Linked DNA regions of Homo sapiens: region 2 is linked to region 1. Evidence: fine-mapped expression QTL. Tissue or cell type: spleen. Region 1 holds a variant in brackets; the other region holds the start of a gene. All regions are shown on one strand. Distances are between the middles of the regions.

Region 1 (8,327 bases):
CCTGGCCATAGTCAATGAAGAGGGCCCCAACCCTCAGGGAAGTCTCTGGCAAAGCCACAAGTCAGCCTTTTTTGGAATCTCAGGGTTCCTGAATCCTGCTGAGGGTCCTGTCAGGAGTAAGAACAGCTGAAAGGAAGTATGTGAATCTCCTATCTATGTGGAGAGGAAAATAAACCTCTATTCCCATCACATTTGGGCAAACTGGCACTGCCTCTTAAGTCAGTAAAGTATTTGTGGACCTGGTCAGGTTTCTGTCATCAACACAACATCCCCCATTCATGACTTTCTGGAGTAGAACTGCTCACATTATATTTCTTGGACCCCCAGAGTTCCAGAGGTCAGCAGGAGGACTGGCCAAGTAAGAGGGAATTAATGCAAAGTTGTCCCAGGTAGCCTTCCCCCAGCCACTATTGAGATTTCAAGTCCTGCTCTCAGGAAGCAAAGGTTCATGAAAGCAGTCAGGCCTTTTATGGCTGAGACAAGGGGGCAGAAGTAGCTGCTATTTCCTGTGCTCCTCTTTGACTCTTATCTTACTTCTCCCTGGTACTGAAGTGACCAAAGACCCCAGCCTCTTTCAGTGCTTTCAAATCCAGCCTTACAGATGCTCTAATTTACTCATACTGCGAACTTGCTTAAAGATAATTTATACAAAGACTTATTATTCTAAGAATGTCTGTGTATTTCTGAGGTTTTTTATAATAAACATATTTTAAGGTAGGTTTTGAATTTCCCTGTAATTGTTTTTTCTGTTTAATATGAAAAAGGGTTCCACTTACATTAGGGTTTTTGTATGGATATTCTGTTGTTCCACTGACACTTATTTCAAGAAGACTGTCTCCTGTTCTAAAGCTGCAAGTTTTAAAAATCAGTTAAGCACATGTTTATACATGTTTTGTTGGTTTTGTTTTTCAGAACTCTCCATTCAGTTCCTTTGGTCTATCTGTCAATCTCTGCACCCAAATCTCAAACTCTTCATTATAGTAGCTTTGTAATTCTTACTGTCTGGTAGACTAATGACTCTTTTTCAAGTGTATATTGACTATGCTTGTCCATTTGCATGTCTTTATATTTTAGAATCAGGTGATTCACACATGCCTTCATGTCCAAAGCCCTTTGGCAGTTTTGATTTAGGATTGCAGTCGATCTGTAGATTCCTTTTTGGGAAGAATCAACATATTTAAAATATTGAATCTTCATGCCCATGAATTTATTTTATTTTATGTTCAGGTAGGTCTTTGTTAATATGCCTCAACAGCATTTTAATATTTTTGTCTGTAAAAATTTTTTGGTTAAGCTTTTTTAACCAAAAAATATTTTAACCAGCCATCAGCTGCCTCCCAGTCTTATTTGGTTAAAATGTTTTTGGTTAAATTATTTTCCTAAGATACTTGATATTTTGGTACTATAGGTTAAAATTATATAGTCTTTACTTTCATTTTCATACTCTTTCCCTGACAAAAAACGAAGTTGATATTCTTTTGAATATTGACCTTATACTAGCAAACTGATATACTATTATATATTGAATAAATTATCTTTAGTTGTTTTGGATTCTTTTCATGCACAGTCTAATCATGCATGAATCACAAACGCTTTGTTTCCAACTGGCCAATCCTCATTCCTTCATTTACTGCTCTTTGGATTACTACACTGGCTACTACCTCTAGTATAAAAAGTAATAGAAGTACTTGTAGCAGAAACTCTAGGTTAGGTCTCAAGTTCAAACTAGAGGCTTCCAACATTTCCTTAAAAGATGTATCTGTTGTAGGTTTTTCATGCATATCCTTTTATCTAGTTTGGTAACATTTTTCATATTTGATAAACTTTATGTTTAAATAATTTTAGATTTACAAGAAAATTATAACAATAGTAAGAAAGTTCTCATATGTTCCACACTCAATGCCTCCTGTTATTAACACCTTACCTTGGTAAGGTTTCCTAAAACTAATGAGCCAGTATTTGTACATTGTTTTTAACAAACATTCTTTATTTATTATTGAACATACTTCAGTCACATTTTCTTACTTTTCACGAAATTCTATTTTCTATGCCAGGATCCCCTAAGGATACTCCATTACATTTAGTTATCATGTTCCTTCGATGCCCTTTGGCTGTACCGGTTGATTGAGACATTTCTCGATTTTGAAAACATTGACAGTTTTGACAGTTTCGTATGGTTAGGTATTTTGTAAAATTGACTTTGACTGGGATTTATGTGATTTTTTTCTGTCATGATTTGATGTAGGTAATGTTTCCTGGAAGGATGAACAGAGAGGTGAAGTGCCGTTCTTATCATACCGACAGCACATAGTACCAACAAAATTTGTCACTGATGATGTTAACTTGATTACCATGGCATCATCGTGCTTTTTAGCTTTATTCAGGGTAAAATTACATTATTTTTTGCCGTATGTTATACTGTCATCATGAGAAGAACAGGGAGACCCAGGACCAGCCAGTAGTCACATGAAGCCTCTGAGAGATAACTGCAAGACTCCCTGCCCACAAAGAGAAGGATCCACAGAATCCAGCTCCACTGCTGCTGTCAGCCCTGGGAGGCCCTGGGGCATGGTGGCCCACTGTGGTGTCCCCCTGACATTTTAGAGGGTAGAAAGAGGAGAAGGCTCTGCCTAGGTGAGTCTCACTTCAGATCATGAGAGGTGAAGGGACTCAGGCCCTTCCAGGCATCCCCAGGATGACACAGAGGAAGGACTGGTGAGACACCCCTCCCAAGAAACAGAAGGACACACAAATCCAGGCCCTGTTTTCACCCCTGGGAGGCCTTGGGCAGGGCCCTCAGTCAGAGATGCTAGCGCTTTTCACTTCGTCTTGGGGGGCGTCTCATGGAAATGGGGACCTTGATCTGAAGAACATAGTCTCTGGACAGCAGGGGAAGGGCTCCCAGGCCATGTCAGGAATAATAACTGCAGGAAAACAGAGAGTCCTGCCCACCCCATTTTAGAAAAAGGACACCAGAGTCCTGCCTTGGGCCTGGGAGGCCCCACCCCACTGTGGGTGGATGTGATTCTCCCTCTCTTGCACCTTGCAGGTCTCAGGGATGGGAGGGGCTTATTCGGAGGTGAAAGACTCAGTTGCACAGAGGCAGGAAGGCCAGGCGGTTTCCAGGAGTCCAGGCACAGCCTCTCGGGAAGGCAGGAAGGGAACACCCATGACTGGTAGTGCCCCTCCCCTGTCCCTGTGCCTGCTGCCAGCTCTGGAGGACCCTATCAGGGTCCCCAGGTTTACAACTTTCTGACTTGCATTTTGGGAGTCAGCCGGAGGGGAAGTTTTCTCTGAGGAGGGCAGTTTCAGTTAAGCAGAGGGAGGAACCCCAGGACTGGCCACTCAACGAGAAGAGAACTCTGTGGAAGGACAGTGACCTTCCAACATGGAGGAGAGGCACAGGCTACACCCTTTCCCTTCCTGCCGTCAGCCCTGGAAAAAGG[T/A]TGTGGGGGGAGAAAGCGGGGAGGTGGGCAGGGAAATATGGACGAGGGCTTTGAAGTGAGGAGGAAAAGGTGGAGGGATACCGAGAGGTGGGCAGGAAGGGGTGGAAAGGGTCGGGGAGGTAGGCAGGAAGGGGTGGAGGGGGCCCAGGAGATGGGCAGGAAGGGGTGGAGAAGGGCCGGGAGGTGGTCAGGAAAGTGTGGGAAAGAGGTAGAGAGGTGAGGGGTGGTTCCTCCATAGAGAGGAGACCTAGCCCCACTGGGAGTCTGAAGTATTTGAGGCATTTTGTGAGAAGGCTTAATTGAGATCAGCAGACAGAAGACTCTTAGAACTGGCCGATCCTCAAGGTAAGGGCCCTAAGGGAGAACTGAGGGACCTCCCACCACAGAAAGAAGAAGCTCTTGCCTGCCCTCTACCTGCTGTGAGATTGTAGGTCGCAGACAGGAAGAGGGTAACCGAGGGCTGAGGGACACGTCTTCATGACAGAAGAAGGGAGGAGGTGCCAGCTCTCTAGGGAATAAATAGGAAGACTTTGAGAAGGACAAGGGGAAACGCCACCTCAGAGGACAGACTCCCAGAGATTCCCAGCATGCTCCTCCATATCAGCCCTCGTAGAGCTCCCCAGTCAGCTCAGGCTGAGCGGCAGCCCTCTCATTGCTGGGTGAGAGGTGCAGGGAAAGGGAAGGCCTTGGTCTGAGGGTCCCGTGGCAAATCAGCACAGGGAGCTGCCTCCAGTTGGCAGAGGGAAGATTCCCAGGCCCTGCTGGGGATAAGAGTGAGGACTGAGGAGTCACATGTGCATCAGAACAGATGTGAGGCCAGCCCAACTGCCCCCGTGGTAGAGTGCTGGGAGGTGGCTGCCACCTCACTACCTCCCACTGCTCTCAGGGATGTGGAGTTTGCCCTGAGTTTTGGCTAGAAGAGTGGTAGGGACATGGCCCTGTCTGAGAAAAGGTGAGGATGCTAATTAAATTCTGATGGGACCATGCAGTCCAGAACTGTGGGGCTCTGGGAGTCTGGTCAGCCCCAGCTGTCAGCCTTGGGAGGCCCAAGACTCTGCTTGCAGTCTTTAGCCTGAGGGGCTCCCTCACTTCCTCTTGCAGGTGCTCCAGGAACCAGGAGTTGAAGACCTGGGTCTGAGGCACACTTCCTAAAGTCAGCACAGCAGAGGAGGCCCAGGCAATATCAGGAGTCAAGGTGAGTGCACGCCCTGACTGTGTACCAAGGGCCCTACCCCCACAAACAGAGCAGACCTGGCAGCACCTGGCCATAGCCACCTACTGCCATTCCTGGTGCCTCAGGCTCTGCCTGCCAGCTGTGCCCCGAGGTGCTTTCTCACATCCTCCTACAGGTTCCCAGGGGACAAACCCCCTAGGATGGCAGGTGACCCGTGAGGCCCTAGAGCACCACCTTAAGAGAAGAAGAGCTGTAAGCCGGCCTTTGTCAGAACCACCATGGGTGAGTTTCTCAGCTGAGGCCACTTGCAGTGTCCCTCTCTCCCTCAGGCCTGTTGGATGCCATCATCCACATCCCTGCTCACACATTTACCTCCTGCTCCTAAGGAAGACGTTATGCCTGTGTTTTGAAATGTTCCTAGCGGCAACTTTGAGAAAGACTTCCAGAACCAAACTGTGATAGAGAACTTGGCAGATGCACAGGATTCCACAGAGGAGGAAGAGGAGAAAACCTCCTCCATTTCCTCTTCCTCTTTCTACTTATTATTCCCCTCCTCTTCCTTCTCTTCTTCCTCCTTCTCCTCCTCTTTCTCCTCTTCCTCCTCCTCCTCCTCCTCATCCTCTACTCTGATTCTTGGTGCTCATGAGGAGGAGGAGGAGTAGCTGTCTGCTGGGATGCTGCCTCTTCCCCAGAATCCTCCTGAGAGTCCTCCCCAGGGTCCTCTCCAGGGTTCCCTGTCCTGCTCCTCCTCCACTTTATGAAGCCCATTCAATGAAGAGCCTAGCAGCCAATAAGATGAAGATACAAGTACCTGGCACAGCTTGCCAGAGAGCGAGCCCTTGTTCACTTATACACTGGATGAAAAGGTGGACAAGTTGGTGCAGTTTCTTCTCCTCAAATATCAAGCAAAAGAGCCTCTCACAAGAGCAGAGATGCAGATGAATGTCATCAACACATACACGGGCTACTTTCCTATGATCTTCAGGAAAGCCCGTGAGTTCATAGAGATTCTTTTTGGCATTTCCCTGACAGAAGTGGACCCCGACCATTTCTATGTCTTTGTAAACACATTAGACCTCACCTGTGAGGGGAGTCTGAGTGATGAGCAGGGCATGCCCCAGAACCGCCTCCTGATTCTTATTCTGAGTGTGATCTTCATAAAGGGCAACTGTGCATCTGAGGAGGTCATCTGGGAAGTGCTGAATGCAATAGGGGTGTGTGCTCAGAGGGAGCATTTCGTCTATCGGGAGCCCAGGGAGCTTGTCACTAAAGTTTGAGTGCAGGGACATTACCTGGAGTAGCGACATGTGCCCAGTAGTGCTCCTCCACGTTATGAATTCCTGTGGGGTCCTAGAGCCCATTCAGAAACTAGCAAGAGGAAAGTAGTGAGATTTTGGTCATGTGAAACAATACCGTCTCTAGTTCCTTTCCAATCTCTTCCAAGGATGCTTTGAAAGATGTGGAAGACAGAGCCCAGGCCATAATTGACACCAAAAATGATGCTACTGCCATGGCCAGTGCAAGGTTCCGTGTCATCTCCAGAAACTTCTCCTGTCCTGAGTGAAGTATAGGGCCGTTTCTTACGTCTGTGTTTGAAGAGGGCAGTCAGGGTCCTAGGTAGTGGAGGGCCCGGGTGGGGCTTGAGGGAACAATACAGTGTTCTTTGCATTTCTGTTCCATATGGGAGAGATAGATTTACCTCGTTTCCTTTTGTGTACTTTTTGAATGATTTTCCTTTTAATAGTAGGTTGAATTAGCTTCAGAATATTATTTTATAAATATTAGTCACACATATATTGCTGTTTATCTAGTTTAAGAGTAACAGTTTGATATTTTGTAAAAAAAAATGGAAAAAGCTTGTCTCTTATTTTGTGATCTATAACAGGATAACATGGTATTGTACTAGGAATTTTCTTTAAATTATGTAAGAACTCAGCAGTTAAATAGTGGAACGAAATAAAGGATGGTGAATAGTTACATTTCCTTATCCCGTTTATACTGTTGTTCTTGAAAATTAAAGAAATAGACCTGGCTTTGCTTAGCTCATTCAAGAAAGTAGCAGAAATTAAATGTTAATAAATAAAAGCATCTCTGACGGCTTTATTTGCCTAACATTCTGTGAGCATTTGCTTGCGGAGGGGACTCTTAATAGTGGGGATACAGTGAAAAGCAAGAGTTATGCCTTACCTATAAAACAATAGAGTCTAGGAGCAGAAGCCATGTCAAGAAGGTGGTAAGATGCTCTCTACAATCATAAGTTTCAAAAAAGTGGGGAGGTGAGACTCCAGATGGAGTCTTCAAGTATAAAGTCCCTGAGCTAAGGTAGTGTGGGGCTTCGGGAAACTGCAGGTGCTTCTGTGGGAGCTGATTGTTATGAAGCTGGGTGGTGGCAGGGGCCAGACTCTCAGAAGGTGAGAGAAAAGCCTGCAATGGAAAACTGCTCTGAGCAGTTCCTTCTGGGTGGATGATGAGGGAGAGAGGAGTCTCCATGTGGGGAAGTAATGGAAGCTGTCTTGCAGCTCTCTAACTGGTGAGCTTGAACACAGTGCAAGGACTAGGTGATTGATACCCATCATTTGCAAGTGTTTCCTGAGAAATAAGGCGATAATTCCTTGAAATGCTGCCCAGAAGCTTCTAGGCTGGCACTCATTTTCCTAGCCTGGGAGAGCCAGAGTCCATTCCATTGAAAGGTCATTTAATTAGGTTATTTTAAATGTAATGTGGGCAACTGTAAGCAAGGGCTAGATTTTTAGTGGAGGATAAATAGAAATAGTTGTTTGGATGGATGAGCAAAGGGGAAGGTGAAAAGGAGTTGGTCCTTGATTCAAATTCAGCACTTTGATGTAAATTTTCAGTTTGGATAGTGACAATTCCATATCTATCCTGGGCATCTTCAAACACTCTCAAAATACTCCCACATAGGGTGGTGAGTAGAATCTGATTTGCCACATAATATACTGGTTCTAGGGATGTAATCTTAGGGTAAGAGATAGAGTTTTTGAGATCATCCTAATATTTGATATTTGTATTGGGATTTTAATATATGATATTTGTAGTAACATTGTTTGAAGCAGGCCACTGAAGAGATACACAGATGAATGAGCTATACCAGGTGGTCAAAAAGCAAAGCTTCCTTCATAAACTTGGTATATGAGATAAAATTTTGGAAATCACTTTGTAAATAAATTACAAGGAGCTGAATTTCTAAAAACAGAACAATAACAAAATCCTTAATACTGCTTAGAAGGTGACAAGTGTTCCTTGACAGACAGGCTAGCTCTGATGAGAAAAGAAAATTATGGTTAACCATCCTTCCATTGTCTCTTTTCTGTGTACCTGCCCCACAGGAAAATCTTGGTTTGCAGTGTGCCACAGGCACATGTACAGCTGTTCAGGAATGTTCAGTCATGTAGAGGGTATTAGAATCTCTCATGGTAGGATATTTACCGTATACCAAAAGCAGTGAGAGAATTCTCAGTCTAAAGAGATTGTATTGTGTGATGGTTAATACTGAGTGTCAACTTGATTGGATTGAAGGATGCAAGTATTGTTCCTGGGTTTGTCTGTGAGGGTGTTGCCAAAGGAGGTTAACATTTGAGTCAGTGGGCTGGGAAAGGCAGGTCCACCCTTAATCTGCATGGGCACAATCTAATCAGCTGCCAGTAGGACCAGAATAAAAAGCAGGCAGAAGAATGTAAAAAGGCTAG
Region 2 (8,327 bases), 24 kb after region 1:
TGCAGCTCCCCCCAGCTCCTTTTGATCTCCCCTGTGTGGTCTCTTGTGCAACTCTGGAACCTGGCCTGCTGACTAACTTCTCATTACGGTCTCACCCTCTGAAGTGTGAGGACTGAGGAGTCACATGTGCACCAGAATAGATGTGAGACTAGCCCCTATTTCTCCTGGTGTAGAGTGCCTGGAGGTGGCTGCTGAACTCTCAGCGCAAGAACCTAGAAGCAACTGGCCTTCCCCTGAGATAGACCATTCCTACTGCCTGCAGAAGTTCCCTGACTCATCCATCTCTCCCCCAGGTTCCTCTATGATAATGGCCTTTCGATGTGACTATTCGCTTTGGATAGTGACATTTCCATACCTAGGCTGGGCATCTTCAACACACTCTCAACGTATTACCAAACAGGCTGCAGAGTAAAATCTGATTTGCCAGATAATATATGGGTTTTAGGGATGTAATCCTAAGGTCAGAAATAGCCTATTTGAAATCTTTCTAATATTTGATACTTGTAGTATGATTTTAATGAGATGCATTATTTGAAACAGGGCACTGAAAACAGAGATGAACAGGCTTTTGTAGATGATCAAATGCCAATCTTTCCTTCATAAACTTTGTAGATGAGGAAAGGCTATAGACGTCACTTTGTAAATGATCCACAAGAAGGTGAATTTCTAAAAAACACAAAACAATATCTTGAAGACTGCTTAGGAGGTGACAAGGATACTTTGGGGGACATGCTGGTTTTGATGAGAAATAAACAGTAGTTAAATATCCTTCCACTCTCTCTTGTCTGTGTACCTGCCCCACAAGAAAATCCTGGCTTGCAGTGAGCCACAGGCCCATGTATAGCTGTTCAGGTATGTTCCGTCATATGGAGGGTAGCAGAGGCTCACAGGGTAGATTATTTACCGTACACGAAAAATATGACAGAATTCTCAGCCTAAAGAAATTATACAGGTTATTAAAAAGGACAGTGCCAAGTGCTGTTGAGGGAATAACGTAGACCCTCCCTGCCAAGACTTACAGAATTGTTTTAAAACTGGATGTAATCCTGAATTTGAAACCACCAGTCACCTCGTAGGTGCAAGAAAAAGTTGGAAGATTTCAAGGCTACGAGGACATTCCCAGAAACAATTCCAAGCAATGAAGGCACTTACTGTCATCAATTATAATAGTTGCTTTTCATTGAGCACCGTAATAACATATGGGAGAGATTGCAAGTGCCCATCTCCATCTTGTCTAGCTCGCCTTCCTGGCGGGTTCATTTGTAGTTAGACAGAAGCCAGTGTATCATTCCCATGCTTTCATTTCCGTTCAGCACTTAACATCTGTTGTGACGTGGAGCTATAAGGTGACAGCAGCTTGGATTCCTGGCTGAGGTGAAAGCCAGGACCCGCCGTGGATTAGTTTCTTATACCATAACAGAATACCACAGACGGGGTGACTTAAACAATACAAATGAATTTTCTCCCATTTCTGGAGGCTAAATATCTAAGATCAAGATGTGGGCCAGTTTGATTTCTTCCCTGGCCTCTCCGTGGCTTGCTGATGGCCACTTTCTCACTAAATTCTTACATGGTTTTTCCTTGGTCTGTGTGTCTGTATCTTAATCTGCTCTTTTATGAGGACACCTGTCATACTGAATATGAGCCTAACCTTAAGACCTCATTTTACCTTAATTACCTCTTTAAAGTTTCTATCTTCAAATACAGTCACATTCTGGGATACTGGGTTTTAAGACGGATATATGAATTTTGGGGGAGATTCAAAATTCAGCCCATAATACCCTGCCAACTAAATTCAGAATTTATGTACAAAAAAGTAAACGTGTTGAGTCATGTAAAAATGAAGGATTTTTTTGTTGTTGTTCCAAGAGCTTACTGTTATTTTATCTGCCTCCTGGACTGCTCCTCATCCTTTTCTTAGGCTTATTTCAATACTTTCCTTACAAATAAATACTGCATATATTGTTGTTGCAAAAACTTAAAAAAAGAGGTAGAAATCACAATTCTCCCTTTTGGAAAGTTCCTCCAAAATTCAGCCCCCTATTCAGAAGTTTCCACAATTAACCGTGTGGTGTTTAAATTTAAAAGCTGATTTAGAATTTTGAGAAGATTGATGTGGTTTTTAAAGTAAAATTTATACATATATGAGCTTATGTATGTGTTTATAACTACACATGGGTAATAATATACATATAGGTCTGCCACTTCCCTTTCCACTATTATAGATTCAATTGCACCCCCACTGAAGTCTTATGTTGAAATTAACATGTGGCATTATTTGGAGACGGGATTATCTCAGAGGCAAGGAAGTTAAAATGTGGTTATTAAAGAAGAGCTGGTACTATTCCTATGCAAACATCCTTTGTTTATTAATAAACATACTTTATTCACATTTATTTCCTTGTCACGAAAGTCTATTTTCTGTCCCAAGATACCCTGAGGATACGCCATTACACTTGTTCATCATGTCTCTTTAAATGCCCTTTGGCTGTGCCAGTTCACTGAGACTTCTCTTGATTTTGAAAACATTGACAGTTTGGAGGTGTATGGTCAGGTATTTTGTAAAATAGCCTTTGATTGGGAATTAAGTGATTATTTTTTATGATTTGATGTAGGTTACGTTTTCTCGGAAGATGAACAGAGAAGTGAAGTGCCATTCTTATCATATCATACCGACGGCACATAATACCAACACAATTTGTCACTGATGATGTTACTTTGATCACCATGGTGACCTAGTGTTTGTCAGTTTTCTTCAGGGTAAAGTCACATTACTTTTTTCCCTGTGTCATACTGTCATCTTGGGAAGGATAGGAAGACCCAGGACCAGCCAGTAGTCAGATGAGGCCTCTGAGGGAAAACTGCAGAAACCTCCTGCCCACAAAGAAGAGGATCCACAGAAACCAGCTCCCCACCTGTTGTCATCCCTGGGAGGCCCAGGGGCATGTTGACCCACAGTGCTGTCCCCTGACGTCTTAGCGTGTAGAAAGAGGAGAAGGCTGTGCTTAGGTGAGTCTCACTTCAGATCATGAGAGCGGAAGATCAGGAGGGGGGCCTTCTAGGCATCCCCAGGCTGATACAGAGGATGGACTGGTGAGCTACCCCACCACGGACACAGGAGGATCCCCAAAAACCTGCCCGTTTTCACTGCTAGGAGGCCTTGGGCAGGGCCATTAGGGAGAGACGCTAGCGTGCTCCAGTCCCTCTTGGGGGGTTCATGGAAATGGGAACCTTGATCTGAAAAACAGTCCCTGGAGAGAAGAGGGAGGGAGTGGAGGCCGTATCAGGAATAATAGGTTGAGGAAGACTGAGGGTCCCTCCCATGCCATTTCAGACGGAGGGCAGTGGAGCCCTACCTGGAGTCTGGGAGGCCATACCCCACTGTGGATGGATGTGATTCTACCTCTCTTGCACCTTGCAGGTCTCAAGGATGGGAGGGGCTTATTCGGAGGTGAAAGACTCAGATGCATAGAGGCAGGGAGCCCAGACAATGTCAGGAGTCCAGGAACAGCCTCTCAGGAAGGCAGGAAGGGAACACCCATGACTGGTAGTGCTGCCTGTCCTGTCCCTGTGCCTGCTGCCAGCCATGGAGGAGCCCATCAGGGTCCCCAGATTTACAAATTTCTGACTTCCATTTTGGGAGTCAGCCAGAGGGGAGATTTTCTCTGAGGAGGGCAGCTTCAGTTAAACAGAGGGAGTAGCCCCAGGGCTGGCCACTCAACAAGAAGAGAACTCTGTCGAAGGACAGTGACCTCCGAACACGGGGGAGGCACAGGCTGCACCCTGCCACTCCCTGCTGTCAGCCCTGGAAAAAGGTGGGGTGTGAGTGTCAAGGACTGGGGAGGTGGGAGGGAAGAGGTCAGCAGGGCTTAGGGAGTGAGCAGAAAGGTTTGGAGCACATCCTGGAGGTGGGAAGGAAGGGATGGAAAGGAGGCTGACAAGCGGGCGGCGGGGGGGGGGCGCCTTCCTCCTCTGAGAGGAGGCCCCGCCCCACGCTATCCGGGCTGTCAGCCCTGATCAACCCTGACAGAGTTCCCGGATGTGCTTTGCCGGATGTGCTTTCCCGGCGGCCATCTTGGGAGTCTGAAGGACCTGAGGCATTTTGTGACGAGGATCGTCTCAGGTCAGCGGAGGGAGGAGACTTATAGACCTATCCAGTCTTCAAGGTGAGGGCCCCGAGGGAGAAGTGAGGGACAACCCCACCACAGAGAGAAGCAGCCCTGGCCTGCCCTATCCCTGCGGTGGCACTTGTAGGTGGCGGAAACGAAGATGGTAGCCGAGGGCTGAGGGACGTGTCCTCACGGCAGAAGAAGGGAGGAAATGCCGGCCCTCTAGAGAATAAATAGGAAGGCATTGAGGAGGACCGGGGGAACCCCCACCTCAGAGGACAGATTCCCAGAGATTCCCACCCTGCTCCTCAAATCAGCCCCCATAGAGCTCCCCAGGTGGCTGAGGCTGAGCGGCCACCCTCTCACTGCTGGGTGAGGGGTGTAGGGGAGGGGGAGGAGGAGGCCTTGTTCTGGGGGTCCCATGGCAAGTCAGCATGGGGAGCTGCCTCCAGTTGGCAGAGGGAAGATTCCCAGGCCCTGCTGGGAACAAGAGTGAGGACTGAGGGGTCACATGTGCGTCAGAACAGACGTGAGGCCACAGGGACCGCCCCCGTGGTAGAGTGCTGGGAGGTGGCTGCCACCTCACTACCTCCCACTGCTCTCAGTGATGTGGAGTTTTCCTGAGGTTTTTCCTCAGGCCAGCAGAGTGGTGGGGGCCTGGCCCTGTCTGAGAAAATGTGACAATGCTAATTGAATTCTGAGGGGGTCACGAACCTCAGAATTGTGGGACTCTGGGAGTCTGGCCAGCCCCAGCTGCCGTCTTAGCTGGAGGGGCTCCCTCCCTTCCTCTTGCAGGTGCTCCAGAAAGCAGGAGTTGAAGACCTGGGTGTGAGGGACACATACATCCTAAAAGCACCACAGCAGAGGAGGCCCAGGCAGTGCCAGGAGTCAAGGTGAGTGCACGACCTGACTGTGTACCAAGGGCCCTACCCCCAGAAACAGGGCAGACCTGGCAGCACCCGGCCTGTAGCCACCCACTGTCATTCCTGGTGCCTCAGGCTCTGCCTGCCAGCTGTGCCCCGAGGTGCTTTCTCGCGTCCTTCTACAGGTTCCCAGAAGACAAACCCCCTAGGAAGACAGGCGACCTGTGAGGCCCTAGAGCACCACCTTAAGAGAAGAAGAGCTGTAAGCCGGCCTTTGTCAGAGCCATCATGGGTGAGTTTCTCAGCTGAGGCCACTGGCACTGTCCCTCTCTCCCTCAGTCCTGTGGGATCCCATCATACCTATTCGTGTTCACACGTTTACCTGCTGCTCCTGAACAATATTCATCATGCCTCTCTTTCTAAACCTTCCACGCCCCAGCTTTGAGCAAGGCTTCCAGAAGGCAATTTTCATACTGGAGTTGGTAGATGCAGAGGATCCCCCAGATGAGGAAGAGGAGGAAGCTTCCTCCATTTTCTCTTCCTCTTTCCACTTTTTATTCCCCTCGTCCTCCTCCTGTTTTTCTTTCTCATCCTCATCCTCCTCTCTGCTTCTGCGTTCTCCAGGGGACAAGGATATGCCTACTGCTGGGATGCCGAGTCTTCTCCAGAGTTCCTCTGAGAGTCCTCAGAGTTGTCCTGAGGGGGAGGACTCCCAGTCTCCTCTCCAGATTCCCCAGAGTTCTCCTGAGAGCGACGACACCCTGTATCCTCTCCAGAGTCCTCAGAGTCGTTCTGAGGGGGAGGACTCCTCGGATCCTCTCCAGAGACCTCCTGAGGGGAAGGACTCCCAGTCTCCTCTCCAGATTCCCCAGAGTTCTCCTGAGGGCGACGACACCCAGTCTCCTCTCCAGAATTCTCAGAGTTCTCCTGAGGGGAAGGACTCCCTGTCTCCTCTAGAGATTTCTCAGAGCCCTCCTGAGGGTGAGGATGTCCAGTCTCCTCTGCAGAATCCTGCGAGTTCCTTCTTCTCCTCTGCTTTATTGAGTATTTTCCAGAGTTCCCCTGAGAGTACTCAAAGTCCTTTTGAGGGTTTTCCCCAGTCTGTTCTCCAGATTCCTGTGAGCGCCGCCTCCTCCTCCACTTTAGTGAGTATTTTCCAGAGTTCCCCTGAGAGTACTCAAAGTCCTTTTGAGGGTTTTCCCCAGTCTCCACTCCAGATTCCTGTGAGCCGCTCCTTCTCCTCCACTTTATTGAGTATTTTCCAGAGTTCCCCTGAGAGAACTCAGAGTACTTTTGAGGGTTTTGCCCAGTCTCCTCTCCAGATTCCTGTGAGCCCCTCCTCCTCCTCCACTTTACTGAGTCTTTTCCAGAGTTTCTCTGAGAGAACTCAGAGTACTTTTGAGGGTTTTGCCCAGTCTTCTCTCCAGATTCCTGTGAGCCCCTCCTTCTCCTCCACTTTAGTGAGTCTTTTCCAGAGTTCCCCTGAGAGAACTCAGAGTACTTTTGAGGGTTTTCCCCAGTCTCCTCTCCAGATTCCTGTGAGCTCCTCCTCCTCCTCCACTTTATTGAGTCTTTTCCAGAGTTCCCCTGAGAGAACTCACAGTACTTTTGAGGGTTTTCCCCAGTCTCTTCTCCAGATTCCTATGACCTCCTCCTTCTCCTCTACTTTATTGAGTATTTTCCAGAGTTCTCCTGAGAGTGCTCAAAGTACTTTTGAGGGTTTTCCCCAGTCTCCTCTCCAGATTCCTGGGAGCCCCTCCTTCTCCTCCACTTTACTGAGTCTTTTCCAGAGTTCCCCTGAGAGAACTCACAGTACTTTTGAGGGTTTTCCCCAGTCTCCTCTCCAGATTCCTATGACCTCCTCCTTCTCCTCTACTTTATTGAGTATTTTACAGAGTTCTCCTGAGAGTGCTCAAAGTGCTTTTGAGGGTTTTCCCCAGTCTCCTCTCCAGATTCCTGTGAGCTCCTCTTTCTCCTACACTTTATTGAGTCTTTTCCAGAGTTCCCCTGAGAGAACTCACAGTACTTTTGAGGGTTTTCCCCAGTCTCCTCTCCAGATTCCTGTGAGCTCCTCCTCCTCCTCCTCCACTTTATTGAGTCTTTTCCAGAGTTCCCCTGAGTGTACTCAAAGTACTTTTGAGGGTTTTCCCCAGTCTCCTCTCCAGATTCCTCAGAGTCCTCCTGAAGGGGAGAATACCCATTCTCCTCTCCAGATTGTTCCAAGTCTTCCTGAGTGGGAGGACTCCCTGTCTCCTCACTACTTTCCTCAGAGCCCTCCTCAGGGGGAGGACTCCCTATCTCCTCACTACTTTCCTCAGAGCCCTCCTCAGGGGGAGGACTCCCTGTCTCCTCACTACTTTCCTCAGAGCCCTCAGGGGGAGGACTCCCTGTCTCCTCACTACTTTCCTCAGAGCCCTCCTCAGGGGGAGGACTCCATGTCTCCTCTCTACTTTCCTCAGAGTCCTCTTCAGGGGGAGGAATTCCAGTCTTCTCTCCAGAGCCCTGTGAGCATCTGCTCCTCCTCCACTCCATCCAGTCTTCCCCAGAGTTTCCCTGAGAGTTCTCAGAGTCCTCCTGAGGGGCCTGTCCAGTCTCCTCTCCATAGTCCTCAGAGCCCTCCTGAGGGGATGCACTCCCAATCTCCTCTCCAGAGTCCTGAGAGTGCTCCTGAGGGGGAGGATTCCCTGTCTCCTCTCCAAATTCCTCAGAGTCCTCTTGAGGGAGAGGACTCCCTGTCTTCTCTCCATTTTCCTCAGAGTCCTCCTGAGTGGGAGGACTCCCTCTCTCCTCTCCACTTTCCTCAGTTTCCTCCTCAGGGGGAGGACTTCCAGTCTTCTCTCCAGAGTCCTGTGAGTATCTGCTCCTCCTCCACTTCTTTGAGTCTTCCCCAGAGTTTCCCTGAGAGTCCTCAGAGTCCTCCTGAGGGGCCTGCTCAGTCTCCTCTCCAGAGACCTGTCAGCTCCTTCTTCTCCTACACTTTAGCGAGTCTTCTCCAAAGTTCCCATGAGAGTCCTCAGAGTCCTCCTGAGGGGCCTGCCCAGTCTCCTCTCCAGAGTCCTGTGAGCTCCTTCCCCTCCTCCACTTCATCGAGTCTTTCCCAGAGTTCTCCTGTGAGCTCCTTCCCCTCCTCCACTTCATCGAGTCTTTCCAAGAGTTCCCCTGAGAGTCCTCTCCAGAGTCCTGTGATCTCCTTCTCCTCCTCCACTTCATTGAGCCCATTCAGTGAAGAGTCCAGCAGCCCAGTAGATGAATATACAAGTTCCTCAGACACCTTGCTAGAGAGTGATTCCTTGACAGACAGCGAGTCCTTGATAGAGAGCGAGCCCTTGTTCACTTATACACTGGATGAAAAGGT

Which allele goes with the higher level. Positions count from the first base shown, and alleles are read on the strand shown. Sizes are in standard deviations (SD) of each study's normalised expression.
For the expression in spleen of the gene that starts at base 4,082 in region 2, A is the high allele of the variant in region 1 and T is the other (large effect, 0.91 SD a copy in GTEx).

The links.
Region 2: it holds the start of MAGEC1, and the variant in region 1 is fine-mapped to the expression of MAGEC1 in spleen (GTEx, PIP above 0.99).

What each region holds. Positions count from the first base shown.
Region 1 is chrX:141,875,963-141,884,289 of GRCh38, forward strand. MAGEC3 (MAGE family member C3) reads left to right here. Exons shown (of 8, transcript NM_138702.1): 3 at 3,213-3,469; 4 at 5,441-5,834. Among named protein-coding and RNA genes, the nearest start is that of MAGEC1, 24 kb to the right of the region's middle. The variant T/A (reference allele first, on the strand shown) is at 3,447.
Region 2 is chrX:141,899,813-141,908,139 of GRCh38, forward strand. It overlaps MAGEC1 (MAGE family member C1), which reads left to right and starts at 4,082. Exons shown (of 4, transcript NM_005462.5): 1 at 4,082-4,166; 2 at 4,905-5,002; 3 at 5,158-5,264; 4 at 5,597-8,327. The coding sequence starts at 5,261. RefSeq lists an enhancer at 4,198-5,397.